Linked DNA regions of Homo sapiens: region 2 is linked to region 1. Evidence: fine-mapped expression QTL. A gene starts in region 1. The other region holds a variant in brackets. All regions are shown on one strand. Distances are from middle to middle.

What was found. PIP is the estimated chance that this variant, and not a neighbour inherited with it, causes the effect.
Region 2: its variant is the best candidate, but not a certain one, in a credible set for the expression of MAN2B2 in lung (TOPMed, PIP 0.64).

What each region holds. Positions count from the first base shown.
Region 1 is chr4:6,572,966-6,576,965 of GRCh38, forward strand. It overlaps MAN2B2 (mannosidase alpha class 2B member 2), which reads left to right and starts at 2,224. Exons shown (of 19, transcript NM_015274.3): 1 at 2,224-2,383; 2 at 3,613-3,759. The coding sequence starts at 2,246. It overlaps LOC105374365 (a long non-coding RNA gene), which reads left to right. Exons shown (of 3, transcript XR_925098.3): 2 at 544-642; 3 at 1,226-1,373. RefSeq lists enhancers at 420-1,188, 1,189-1,956, 1,957-2,725 and a silencer at 2,014-2,473.
Region 2 is chr4:6,616,472-6,620,982 of GRCh38, forward strand. It overlaps MAN2B2 (mannosidase alpha class 2B member 2), which reads left to right. Exons shown (of 19, transcript NM_015274.3): 17 at 909-1,021; 18 at 3,456-3,573. Among named protein-coding and RNA genes, the nearest start is that of MRFAP1, 22 kb to the right of the region's middle. The variant C/G (reference allele first, on the strand shown) is at 2,404.

The sequences.
Region 1 (4,000 bases):
CTGGAGGCTTCATCTATGTAACAAGAACCTTAGCTTCCACATCCCCATTGTCTTAACTCAAGCATTTCTTTCTGCCGACTCCAACTCTTCAGGTAAAGCTTAACTCTTTTAACCAATTGCCAATCAGGAAATCTTTGAATCCTCCTCTGACCTGGAAGCACCACCCACCCACTTCAAGATGTCCCACCTTTCTGGGCCAAACCAATGTATACTTTACATATATTGATTCATGTCTTTGCCTGTAACTTCTGTCCCCATAAAATGTATAAAGCTATAGCCCAACCACCTTGGGCACCTGTTCTCAGGACCTCCTGAGGCTGTGTCACAGGCCATGGTCACTCCTATTTGGCTTAGAATAAACGTTCTGAGATATTTTAGAGTGTGGCTTTTCTCGTCAACCAAATTCTACAAAGAGCTTGGGGGGTGGGTAATGTTGTGGAGCCCATCTTTGGCAGATACAGTCTGCCAAAGATTGTGACACTGCCTTATCGATAAACTCAGTGGCTTAACACAATTAAAGCTTATTTCTCCCTCTTGTCACAGCTCTTTGGGTTCCTCATGGTTCCATGTGGTTCTTCAGAGCCTCCATTGGTGGCTCTAACCTCCCTGAGGTCCTCGGAGTGCCCTCCACTGGAGCAGTGGGTGAGTAAGAGAGCAGGGCTCACCCACAGGAGGTTGTTAGGGGCCAGCCTGGAAGAGGAGCACAGTGCCCGCCCCCACCCATCCCATTGACTAGCACTTAGCCACGTGGCCGCACCTGGTTGCAGAGGCTGGAGAGTGGAGCCCAGCTGTGAGCCTGGCCGGTCATGGGGACATGTGTTAGTGAGTACTGTCCACGTCAGGCTCAGACCATCTGACCTGAGGCTATGGGGATGCAGGGGTCCCCAGGGGGTGGACAGGACAGAAGGAGGAGGGAGACCTGCTTGGAGAACCTGTTCTCAGTTTCCATTTGTTACATAATGGACAAGAGGACCAGCACTTTTGCTCAGAGCTGCAGCTCTGGTTCCGCTAGGAAATGCCAGGCAGGGGCACAGCCAAGTGGTTCTCAGACAGTAAACCCCAAGCCACAGACCCTTGCTTTCTTGGGCAGGGAGTAGTGGACAGGGCTGACTCCAGGCAACAGTCCCAAACAGGCTGCACCAATGTGACCGCACCTCCCCTGAGTGCAGGCAAGGGGTGCTGTGCTCACGCTCTCAGCCTGGGTGCATCCTTACTTTGTTCACAGCTCCTCTATCGGACCCATTTCACTGAGGCTCAGCGAGGTTACCTATGTCGCCCCAGGTCACCATCCAGTAACCCAGAAAGCTTCTCTTGGCTCCTCCACTAACTGCGTGATCTTGGACAAGTCAGTTACTGTCTCTGAAAGCCAGTTCTCCTCCTTAAAATGGAGACAGTTGAGCCAGGCATGCTGGTTTATGCCTGTAATCCCAGCACTTTGAGAGGCGGAGGCAGGAGGATCGCTTGAGCTCAGGAGTTTGGGACCAGCCTGGGCAACATAGTGAGGCCCCCATCTCTATAAATTTTTTTTTTAATTAGCTGGGTGTGGCAGTGTGCCCCTGTGGTCCCAGCTACTCAGGAGGCTGAGGTGGGAGGATCACTTGGGCCCGGGAGGTCAAGGCTGCAGTGAGCCCTGATCGCGCCACTGCACTCCGGCCTGGGAGACAGAGTGAGATCCTGTCCAAAAAAAAAAAAAGGAGACAGTCCCATAACAAGCCCCCCATGGCGCCGCCCAGATGGGGTTTCGACGCCAGGGAGAGGAGGGAAAGGGTTATCAGGGAAGGTTCCTGGTGGCAGAGCTCACAGGGTCCGTGCTGAGCCGAATTTTGCACGGTAGCCTCAGAGTCCCGGAGCCGAGTCCAGAGGGCGGGATGCAGGTATTGCGAAGAGGCACACGCTCCGAGAGGAACCACCAGAGCGTGGGCTTTGGGCGAGGAGGGGTCTCCTCTGGTTGGGGGAGATCTGGCAGGCTTGGGGGAGATGGGGCTGAAAGGATGGACAGGGAGGGAAGGCCAGAAAGCTGGAGACGGGGATGGAGAGCTAAACCGCAAAGAGCAGGCGCCCTGCCCCGCTGAGGGCCCCGCGCCTCCAGCTCCTCCTTCCCGAGCTTCCCGGGGTCGGCGTCCAGCCGGCAACCAATGGGCCCCGCCCCCGCCCGCAGCCAATGGGCCGCGTCCCCGCCCGCGCGGCCGCCCCGCCCCTCGCGGACCCGGAAGTGGGCCTGGCACCTTCCCGGCCTGCCGCAGGGATGGGGCAGCTGTGCTGGCTGCCGCTGCTGGCACCGCTCCTGTTGCTGCGACCGCCAGGGGTCCAGTCCGCCGGCCCCATCCGGGCCTTCGTGGTGCCCCACAGCCACATGGACGTGGGCTGGGTCTACACTGTGCAGGTAGGTGCCGACCACGCCCCGCGCGCCCCTGAGGCTGCAGCTTCCCTCTCCCCGCGGGATCTGAGTGTGGGTTTGCGTCCCGGGGCCCGATGCCGGCGCAGAAGGAGGCTCAGTGGGTTCAGGACCCCACGCTGCCATTGACTGGTTGCGTCGCTAACTTCGGGCCAGTCACTTCCTGCCTCTGAACCCCCATTTCCCCTTCTGGAGGGTGGTGCAGATTGGAGGGACCCCTGCATTCCCGGCTGGGGAGGGGCTTGGGGGTTGACAGTGGTAACCCATTTTCCAGGGAAGCCTGGAGCAGGAGAGGGTGGGGCTGGCTTCAGAGCAGGTGGATGTCAGGTGCCCGCTGGGAAGGGGCCGGGCTGGTCCCCTGCGGGGCTGAATATTGGAGGCCAGCTCAGCGTCCTCCGCCCCCCAGGACAGGGGTGAAGGTGGACCTGTGGTCACCTCCTGGTTCTGCTCAGGACCTTGGGCGAGGGGCTTTGGTCCCTAAGCCTCAGTTTCCCCATCTGTAAAGGGTAGGGGAAGCATGCCCACTACAGCCAGTTTCCAGAGGAGAAAACCGAGGCCCAGAGAGGGTTGCTGCCTTGCCCAAGGTCGCTCGGGAATAACCCTCATGCCTCCTGACTCCCTGCTCGGTGCTCCTTCCATTCATGTAAGCACTCTGTGGGCACCCTGTGTGCAGGGCCCTCGGGACTCGGATGGGAACACACTACAGCTGTGGTCCTTGGAGCTCCCAGCCTTGGGGAGGCAGACGCCTAGACGCCAGGGACAGCCTGGGGAGCTCTTCCTCTCAGCACCAGCTTTCCTCATTTCAGCCCCAGCAGGCCCCTTTGGGGTCACTGGACCACACCCCGACTGAGGCCTAAGACTTTCCTGTGCTGCCCCTCAATGGCACACTCAGGGCCCAGCCCCCCAAATTGCACACTCAAGGCCCAGCTTGCTCACCCCTCTGAGAAACTGTCCCTGACCCCTGGGCTGGGAGGGCACCTGTCTCTGCCCATGTAGGGTGTCTGTTTCCCCGTCCCTCTCCCCCAGGAGAGCACGATCCCATCCAGTGGGGAGAGCCTGGTATGGAGCGAGTGCCTAATAGCTGTGTGGGGGGTGAGCAGCAGGGAAGGAAGGGCAGAGCCCCCAACCCCATGCAGACACACCTGGCGAATGGCAGGGGCCCCAGGGACACTTGGTCTTGTTGGACCGGGGCTGGCATGATGCTGTCCCCTCCCCAGGAAAGCATGCGGGCGTACGCCGCCAATGTCTACACCTCAGTGGTGGAAGAGCTGGCCCGCGGCCAGCAGCGCCGGTTCATCGCTGTGGAGCAGGAGTTTTTCCGGCTGTGGTGGGATGGCGTCGCCTCGGACCAGCAGAAATACCAGGTAATGAGGTCACCAGGTGACACAGTTGGCCCAGTATCCTGGCAAAGACCCAGGTGGAAAACTCAATGGGGCAGTTCTAGCCAGGGCCAGGGCCAGGCTGGCATAAACCACAGGGCCAAAACCCCACCGGGCTATTCACAGCCTTGTTTAGATCAAGGTTCACGGTGAGTTCCATGCCTGGGAGAGATTGCTTTCAATTTAATCCTGAATTTCTGTCTATTCTTGAAAAAACTGCCAGCTC
Region 2 (4,511 bases), 44 kb after region 1:
CTGTGCATCCAGTGGGGTTAGCAGGAAGGTTTTTCTTGCTGTGGCCACCACGCCCCCCGCTGATGGAGTTTGTATTGCAGCACGTGCTTCCTCACTCACCATGGCAAGAAAAAGCTTCTGCCGGGAAGTACTGCGTCACTTCAGCTCACTTTGCATTGGCCACAGAGGCCACGCAGCCTCCCCTGACTTCAAAGGGGGCAGGGTAGGAGAGACTGGAGTATTTGAGGACATGCCCCAATATGCCCACAACAGTGGACGAGGATGGAAACATTGCAGCTGGTGTCATGGTGGGCAGCCTTACAGTCGGCCAGACCTGGGTGGGAATCCTCCCTCTGCCGCGCACCAGCTGTATGCCTTGGGCACGTGACTGCCCCTCTCTGAGCCTTGGTTTCCTTGTCGAGTGGGGGCCATGTCAGCTGTCTCACATGGAGTCTATTAGTCTGTTCTCATGCTGCTCATAAAGACATACCCGAGACTGGGTAGTTTATGAAGAAAAAAGGTTTAATGGACTCACAGTTCCACCTGGATAGGGAGGCCTCACAATCATGGCAGAAGGCAAATGAGGAGCAAAGTCACGTCTTACATGGTGGCAGGCAAGAGAGCGTGTGCAGGGGAACTGCCCTTTACAAAATCATCAGGTCTCATGAGACTTATTCACTATCACAAGAACAGCACAGGAAAGACTCACCCCCATGATTCAATTACCTCCCACCAGGTCCCTCCCACAACATGTGGACATTATGGGAGCTACAATTCACGATGAGATTTGGTTGGGGACACAGCCAAACCATATCGAGGAGGTTACAGATAGGAAATGGAGCTGAGTGTGTAAAGCAGCGGGTATAGACCAGGGACATTGGGGTTGGTTGATGAGGGTCTTCACTGCCACCTTCCTTCTGTCCCCAAAGGCCATCGAGGGGAAGCCCAGGCTGACCTCCGCCGTGTCCTGCTGCGGCTCTACCACCTATATGAAGTGGGCGAGGACCCAGTCCTGTCTCAGCCAGTGACAGTGAATCTGGAGGTGAACTTCCCCACCCCCATCCAGACCATAAGCCAGGGAAGCAAACCCTAGATGAAGCCCCAAGAAACTGCCTTGGCAAAGAGATCCACGAGGGCTTCCTCCCAAATGGACGCTGGTATGGGCCCCACCCCGCCCTTCTTCATGGTCTTCTGGGTTTGTCAGGTATTACAACTGGCCTGGTTTTTTAGGGTTTTTTGTGTATATGTGAGACAGGATCTCACTCTGTTGCCCAGTCTGGGGTGCAGTGGCACAATCTCAGCTCACTGCAACCTCTGCCTCCCTGGCTCAAGTGATCCTCCCACCTCAACCTCCCAAGTAACTGGGATCACAGGGGCGCGCCACCACGATGGCTAAGTTTTTTTTTTTTTTTTTGAGACCGAGTTTCGCTCTCGTCCCCCAGGCTGGAGTGCAATGGTGCGCTCTCAGCTGGCTGCAACCTCCATCTCCCAGGTTCAAGTGATTCTCCTGCCTCAGCCTCCCGAGTAGCTGGGATTACAGGCATGTGCCACCACGCCCGGCTAATTTTTTTGTACTTTTAGTAGAGACAGGGTTTCTCCATGTTGGTCAGGCTGGTCACGAACCCCTGACTTCAGGTGATCCACCTGCCTCGGCCTCGCAAAGTGCTGGGATTACAGGCGTGAGCCACCAAGCCTGGCCTAGTTTTTTTATTTTTAGTAGAGACACGGTCTTGCTGTGTTGCTCAGGCTGGTCTCGAACGTCTGGCCTCAAGCAATCTGCCTGTCTTAGCCTCCTGAAGTGCTGGGATTACAGGCGTGAGTGGCCTGTATTTTCTTTCTTATTTATTCTGTGGTAAAACTTTTAAAACACAGACAACATCTGTGTAATCCAAAAACAAAACAGATTCCCCATAGAGTTGCTTTGAAAGGTGACTTAGAGTCAGACAATCCAGGGTCCACACCCAGGCCCCTCTACGGGGGCATCTCCGGCACCCCATGCCTCTGGGCCTCAGTTTCCCCCCATGTAAAATGGGGAGAGGTGAGAGTTCTTTGCCCAGAAGGTTGCTGAGAGGCCCTGGCACTAAGGGGCCTCGTGCAGTGTCAGGGCCCCCAGGCCTCGTCCCCTTCCAGGTTCCCCTCTTGGCTGATGTTGCCCTCTCAGCTCTACTATCAGGCGAGGCTTCCGCCACCTGGCCTGCCCACGCTCCCTCCCCAGAAGGCATGACCTGAGCCGCCTCATTTCTTTCCCAGTTTGCATTCTTTCTATTTCATTTCCTGCTCATGGAGAATTTCTGTGAATCTCTGTGTTTCTGCCTTGGGCCTCCTTCGACATCTGAGTCTTCAGGGGAATCCAGAGAAGCCCCAGTACCTTTTCGCCATGATGTCTTACTGGGCCACCCACCTCCTCTTTCATGATCCTCGCCA[C/G]GGAGGATCCTTTCCTCACGGTCCCTGGCCTGCCTGAGAGCAGGTCTAGGCCATGGCGGGTACCAGTGCCCAGCACAGGGCCAGCCTGCCCTGGGAAGCAAGGAGGCCAGCGTGGGACCTGGAAGTTGGTCATCTGATGCTCCCCCGTTTCACAGATGGAAGCACCAAGGCCCTGAGACAAGGAGACGGTTGGGATGGACACCATGACTCCCTGCCCAACGTGGACGGTGGTGGGGTGGAAAGACCATTGAGTTAGGAACGCAGTGAGTTTGGCTGCAAGTCACAAAACACCTAACAGATGTGCTTAGAACAGAGGACAGAGTGTTTTCTCACCGAACAGGCATGTCCGATGGACCCCAAGCGCTGTCACCGTGGGCCCGATCACTGTCATCTTCCCGCCATCGCCGGCAGACTGGCTTTTGTCTTTTGCCGTCTGCTTGTTTGCGGTCACAAGATGGCACAGGCCTCCCTCATGAGCAAATTTCAAGGCAGGGTAGGGCTCAGCAGTAGTGGCCAGAAAGGCCTTGCCCTAGCGTGGCTCTCTCCCTCCGTCAGCACACAGAAGCTTCTCCAAGAGCCACCCCCAGCCCTCCTGCTCCACAGACTTTTCCAGACCCCTAAGGGCCTCCTGCCTCCCCTAGGTGTAAGGGAGGCTGGGACAAGGCCTATTGGGAAAGGGGGATGGGGTAACTGTGGCTGGCTTCCTCCCTGGACTGGGCACGGGGCCACCTGAGCAATGTGGGGAGAGGAGAACTCCGCGGTGGGGTGGGCAGCTCAAAATGCCACACCTCCCGGGCTGCTCCTCCAGCTCGGCCACCTGGTAAAGCATGCACCTCCCGCTTCAGTGTCCTCATCTGTAAAGTACACGGCCAGTCCTGTCCTCGCAGATGTGCTGTGAGAAGCAGATGAGGGAGCTGTGTCAGGCACCAGGGGAGGACCTGGGCTCCTGAGGACACCGAGTTCGTGGTGTGTCTGCCCTGCTGCTGTCTTGGTTCTCTGCTCAGCTCTGGAACTTGGTGCAGCTCACTCTCCCTCTGCTCCTCTCCCTGCAGGCTGTGCTGCAGGCGCTGGGGTCCGTGGTGGCAGTGGAGGAGCGCTCGCTCACAGGGACCTGGGATTTGAGCATGCTGCACCGCTGGAGCTGGAGGACGGGGCCTGGCCGCCACAGAGGTTTGGGGACCCCCGCTTCAGCTCCCTACCCAGGACTCCCAGCCAGGCTCAGCAGCTGGTCAGACCCGGTGCACATCCAACCATCTGCCTGTCCCGGCCTGTGCGACCTTGCGAGGCTGCTTTCCTACTCTGAACCCGCAGCCCTCCCAAATCTACTACAGTCGGTTAAGAAAGGCTTTGGGTTAGTCTCTGCCTGCCAGGGCTCCACACAGGCGTGTGTGTGCACTTGTACGTGTGCACACGCAGACCACACGCCCTGCCTGTGCCCTGGGTGACAGCTAGGGGCCCAGGGGCTTCTGCCCACCTTGGCCCTGCTGACCTCAGCCCATCAGCCGGTCCCTGCCTCATACGACATGTGCCACCGTGAGCTCCTGCACTACAGGCAGCTTCCAGGCTCCACTCCCTGTCCGCACCATGCCCTCTGCCTGGGACGCACAGGTCCCATTCACTCTGGCCAGCACCTGCTCAAGCTCCCCAGGATGCCTCCCCAGAGTCACCAACCAGGCCAAGTGCCTCCTCCACTCTCCTGGCCCCAGGGGTTTCTTCTGTCCTGTGCAGCTCGTTGTCCACTACACACAGCATGGTGGCGGGTGCATGGTGCACGCTCAGTTGGTGGTGGGAGGAAGGAAGGGACGGAGGGAGGGAGGGAGGGAAGATGATGTTGGTTGGAAAGAAGGAAGGAAGATGGATGAGTGATAGATAAGTGGACGGCTCCCTCCCAAGATCGAAGCCCAACCCCAGGGCATGCCTTCAGGGGAGCCTGGTGAGGCAAGGGCAGACTCACCAGATGGTCTCAGAAAGCTCTTGGGCTTTGAGGGCAACACCCATGAGGAATTGAGGCCACTAGGGCCAGGACCAACCTATGAATTGCCCTCAGGGTGGGCAGAAACGCCAAGAGGCCCACAGGAGTCCTGGCAGAAGGGGATGCCATAGGCCGT